2 separate regions of the Homo sapiens genome follow, and region 2 is linked to region 1. Evidence: fine-mapped expression QTL. Tissue or cell type: monocytes. Region 1 holds a variant in brackets; the other region holds the start of a gene. All regions are shown on one strand. Distances are between the middles of the regions.

Evidence for each region. PIP is the estimated chance that this variant, and not a neighbour inherited with it, causes the effect.
Region 2: it holds the start of VKORC1L1, and the variant in region 1 is fine-mapped to the expression of VKORC1L1 in monocytes (Kim-Hellmuth 2017, PIP 0.94).

The regions. Positions count from the first base shown.
Region 1 is chr7:65,621,589-65,624,351 of GRCh38, reverse strand. No RefSeq gene overlaps it. Among named protein-coding and RNA genes, the nearest start is that of SNORA22, 130 kb to the left of the region's middle. The variant A/TGTGTATGA (reference allele first, on the strand shown) is at 1,510.
Region 2 is chr7:65,872,007-65,874,769 of GRCh38, reverse strand. VKORC1L1 (vitamin K epoxide reductase complex subunit 1L1) reads right to left here and starts at 1,696. Exons shown (of 3, transcript NM_173517.6): 1 at 1,205-1,696. The coding sequence starts at 1,398. RefSeq lists enhancers at 195-746, 1,298-1,849 and silencers at 915-984, 1,532-1,711, 1,425-1,924, 1,945-2,004.

The DNA.
Region 1 (2,763 bases):
CACCACTGATAACAAGTATAAAAGAGTCCTTTTTTCTTCTAGAGAAAGACAAAGGGAATTTTAAGTAGGATTAAGTAGTAGTAGCTTTCAGAACTCAGCAGCTCTCAGAAGCAATAATAACTACATAAATAGCTAAGTGGATGGTAGGAATTACCTCACTTGGAATTTGGCCAGCAAATCAAAAGTTAGCAGTAATATCACATCTTTTTGAAAGCTTTCCTGAGATTCTAGAGGGGAAAATTATCAAAGAAAACTGTTTCTACTGAGTAAATTTCAGGAAGAAATGCTCCTCACTGCTTGAAGATGTTCTATCTCTGGAAAACTGCTAAGACAGAAGTCCCTCCCTGCTGGGAAGCACTCTCTCATCCATGTAAATACATTGCCAATTTTGCCCCCAATGGTAGCAAATAATTACGTTCGCAGATCACCATTGCCTAATGTAAAATGTTACTCAACACGTATAACCTAACCTACCAATGATGTTCTGAATGAGCAAAAAGGGCGTCATGGATATCTCACTTTCAGAGAGTGTCTTAACTTTTTGACTCATTGCAGGTAGTTAAAATGTAAACTTTTTACGGCCACATTTTAAAGCACTTTGCAAACGCTGGACACCTCTACTCGTGAATATCCTGTAAATTTTTCCTTTCAAGTACATTTGACCACTAACATGCCAGATCATCTTCCCTTCTCCCCTAAAACAGAAATGAAAACTGGGTAAAATGGTAATTTGGGGGACAAATATCTTCTCTCATCATCTGAAAACTGTCATATGTTGCTTTTTAAAAAAATTAAATTAGTGTTATTTGTTTTCCACCCAGAGACAAGTTATTTTGGTATCACCCACAATGGAATTTGCATGAAAATCTGTTTACTGACCCAGTTCCCTAGGGGTGCATTTGCCCTAGCACTTGGAGTAAACACCATTTTCACTGCACTAGAAATAGTTCTAATTGGACAAATTGTTATAATTTTAGCAACACCCAATTAAATCAAAGGAATTGGAGGCAGAGATGCCACAGAATCTGGATTCGGCCACAAACCAGTTCAGTATTTGTGCCTGAAATAAAAGTCTAATCATATACCATCTACAGATGCTAAAGGAACAGCTACATACCTCGGCTGAACTTAGAAAATATGATTTTTTTTATTGTACTTTAAGCTCTGGGATGCATGTGCAGAACGTGCAGGTTTGTTACATAGGTACACATGTGCCATGGTGGTTTGCTGCGCCCATCAACCCATCGTCTAGGTTTTAAGCCCCGCATGCATTAGGTATTTGGCCTAATTTTCACTCTCCTTTTGCCCTCAACCCCCTGACAGGTCCCACTTGTGATGTTCCCCTCCCTGTGTCCATATGTTCTCATTGTTCAACTCCCACTTACGAGTTAAAAAAAAAAAAGAAAGAAAATATGAGTTTGGAGAAACTGGTTATTCTGAAAACAGCCTATTAAAAAGTTATGTGACTGGTTAACAGTGTGTGTGTGTGTGTGTGTGTGTGTGTGTGTG[A/TGTGTATGA]GTCCATCCATTTCATTAACTGGGGTATTTTCACCAATACAGTCTAAATAACAGGAAATGAATTTAAAGAGAATCAAACAATAACATTCAGAACTCAAAGTTAAGCATAGTGTAAAATATATCTCAGTGGAAAGCATGTAAGTGTCTTAACTCTCCTTCCAAACCCATCTATAAATTGCCACTTTGTATTTTCCATTCATGTATCCTCCTCTCCAAGAAGCTGGACCTTTTTACTGCTGTTCACGCACCTACACATCACGTCCTACTCCATGCCTTTGTCCTGCTGACTCCCCATTTCTTCTCATCTTGGATGTCTTTCCCAAATCCTTCTTGTCATCAAACACTCATCTCCTCCACAGAGCTTTGGATTTTACAATGTGAACTTACATACATTTTCTGAACTTCCCTAATTATCTATATCCAAATTTAGCATTTAATCATAGAACTTTCCTCTCTGATTAAGTATATGTTTGTGTGTACCTTTTTATCCCCCAACCAAATCACATGATTTAAAGGTAACATTGGTCTTTAATGCCTCTCCTTAAAGTTTCCATCAAGATCCTACTCTGCATTTATTCTCTTTCACTAGTTATCCCTTCTCTTTTTTTTGAAAACATGCTTAAACGTGCCCTATCCTAAAGAAATCTCCAATTCTTTCTCAAGCTCTCCCACCATATCTACTTTCTTTCTCTCAAAACTTCTTTAAACAGCATCCCTTCCTCCACTTCTATTCTGTTCTCTCTCAACCCCTCTAATTTGGTTACCCAGGCACACCCTTATCTCTCAGCTGCAAGTCCCTGCAGCACTGAAACCTCACGCACCTGTCTTTCTCCTGGAGACTGAGACAACCTTGACTCCCGGTTCATCTCCTTCCCCCAAGCCCAGCATTCTCAGTGTCCTTTCCTGGTTCCTGCCCTTGAATTCTCAGTCATCACTCCTCATCTTTTCTCAGTCTCCCATGGCAATTGCATTTCTGCTTTTGTCTTTAACTTCAAAATCTCCAAGACTTCCTAATCTCAAATTTTAGTGAACTGTCTGTGGGGTCCCAGACCTTATGCTGCCACCTGCTGGCCAGTTTCACGGGGCTATCTCAGAACAAAATTCAAGTTTATTCCCAAACACCTAACCATTCTATTTATTTTATTTTTCCTCTGTTAACTAATTACATCACCATTTTCCTAGACCTCCCCGATAGAGGTTTAACATCAGCATCCTCCATGATTTAACGATCTTCGCCCCAGCATCAACCACTCA
Region 2 (2,763 bases), 250 kb before region 1:
CAATGGTGTGGTCTTGGCTCACTGCAACCTCTGCCTCCCAGGTTCAAGCAATTCTCCTGCCTCAGCCTCCCGAGTAGCTGGGACTATAGGCACATGCCACCACACCCAGCTAATTTTTGTATTTTTGGTAGAGACGGGGTTTCACCATGTTGGCCAGGCTGGTCTTGAACTCCTGACCTCATGATCCACCCGCCTCGGCCTCCCAAAGTGCTGGGATTACAGGCGTGAGCCACTGTGCCCGGCCAAGAAAAGTCAATTTTAAGCACTTAAGCAGGCCAGGCGCGGTGGCTCATGCTTGATTCCCAGCACTTTGGAAGGCAGAGGTGGGTGGATTACCTGAGGTCAGGAGTTCGAGACCAGCCTGACCAATATGCTGGTCTCGAATATGCTAATAGGCAACAACGTTTAAAAGTCATTCCAATGCCTAAAACACCACCATATACATAACATACTTGTCCTTTACTCCAATGAAGCTTAAACTAGACCCAAACTCAGACCATTTCCTTCTCCTGGCACACTGAAACATACGAGAGGGAATCCAAGAAATCAGATATGTTAAGTGCGGGTATCTTCTTCCACAGTAGGGTCAAATTCGTGTTTGCCAGCAAATGTCACCGTCCCAGTTAAGTCTGCAAATTCTCACTAGCGCTGGAGTACAAAGAGGCCTGACCACGGAAACACCTGTCCTAGCACCAGGAAGACAGTGGGAAAGGCAACCCCCCTGTCTCCGCGCCGGCCCCAAAGCCTCGGCTGCAGCGATCGGGGGGACAAGAGGTTGCCGCTGGTCTCAAGGGTGCGGTGGACAAGGTCCCACACCCCCGGCCCGCCTCCCGAGAACCAGGAAACCTGTCAAGCCAGCCTGGACCCACCCTCCGCAGCCCCCTCGCGCTCCTGCACAGCCGGGCCCCAGCCCGCCCGACCGCTCCGCGTCCGCCCCGGCCTCCCGGCTGCACTCTGCCACCTCATCCCTCCCCGGCTGCCTCGCGGCCCCGCCACCTCCGCCCCGCGGCCTGGGCTCAGGCCGCCCCCCGGGCAGGAGCGCCCCGCCGCCGCCCCCCGCCTGGCCCCGACCCGACCCCGTCAGTTCCCCAGCGGCCCGGTCCCCGCCGCCCCCAGGCCTGAGCTCCCGCCGCGCGCTCCCCACCCCGAGACTCCACCCTCGCCCCGCTCGGCCGCTCCTGGCCCACTCCCCCAAGCCGGCTACCTGGAGGCAAGGGCGGCGGAGCACTTCACCCAGGGCCCCAGGTCGCAGAGGGCCCGGTGCTCGGGGTCCCGCTCCTTCTCCCGCTCCACGTGGTAGGCGTAGATGGAGAGCAGGATTCCGGCAGCGCACACTGCATACCGGGCCACCCGCTCCCACCGCGGCACCGACACTCTTAGCAGGACGGGAGCCGCCATCTTCCCGCCGCCGCCGCCGCCGCCTCCCTCCGCCTCCACCTCAGCCGCCGCCGCCCGTCGGGGCCCGACCCAGCCGCCACCGCCGCCACCGCCGCCTCCGCCGCCGCCGCCACCACCGCCGCCGCCGCCGCCGCGCCCCATTGGCTCGGTGGCCTGCTCCGGGCCCCGCCCCCACAGGCGCGCGGCCCAACCGCCCCAAAAGGAGTGAGGCGGACGGGGCGGGGAAGGCGCGCGCGGGCGCGGAGGGAGGGGGTGGAGTGCGCAACGGCCGAAGAGGCCGGATCGGCGGGCGGAGACTGAGGCGGCGTGGCGCTGCGCCGCGCGGCCGGTCGCGCGCGAGGGGTGGAGCCCGGGGGAGAAAGGGGTGGGGCAGGGGTGGGGATGGGCGGGGCAGGGGTGGGGAGGGGCGGAGCCAGAGAGGGGCGGGGCCGAGCGGGCCAGTGCGGGAGGGACTTAAAGGAGCGGTCTAACTAGCACATTGCAAGGATGCCACTGTGGGTGACTGGGCGAACCCTCGGCCCCTCCCTCTGGGGATGGCAATCAATTGCCATCCTTTTTCCCTTTTTCGTTGTATATTTCTGACCCAATCCAAATCAACCCTGGCCAATGCTTGGAGCTCCAGAGACCCACACCTATGACCTGATCTTCCCACCACCACCTTCGGTTAGACCTGTGCAAAACTTTTTTTTTAATGTGCAAAACTATGTTTTAAATTTAAAAACTATTTTTAAAAAATGATTTATGGACCGGGTACAGTGGCTTACACCCGTAATCCCAACACTTTGGGAGGCCGAGGCAGGTGGATCACTTGAGGTCAGGAGTTCGAGACCAGCCTGGCCTACATGGCGTAACCGCGTCTCTACTAAAAATACAAAAAACAAACAAAAACAAATTAGCCCGGTGTCGTGGTGGGCGCCTGTAATCCCAGCTACTCGGGAGACTGAGGCATGAGAATTGCCGGAACCCGGGAGGTGGAGGTTGCAGTGAGCCAAGATCGTGCCACTGCACTCCAGCCTGGGCGATAGAGTAAGAGTCTCAAAAAAAAAAAGAGAGATTTACGAATGCCTTGCTTTTCCGTAAGCTGAATTTGAAGTTGCTTACCATAACTCATATAATATAGAAAAATAAAGATGAGCTAATACAATCAGGACGAAGAAAAAGAAAAGTCAGAATAAAATGAAAGGCCAGGAATAAGAACACAGATAAGCAGGCCATAGGGGCTTACATAGTTATTAAAATTGCATCATAAATTTGGCTCTGAGCTTCCTGGTGGCCAAAACTAAAAGGAAAACAGATGTATGTGCTTTTTCTCACTGTCTTTAAGAAGAAACACAGGGTTCTTGGAGATTTTCAGTGTTTCCCTGG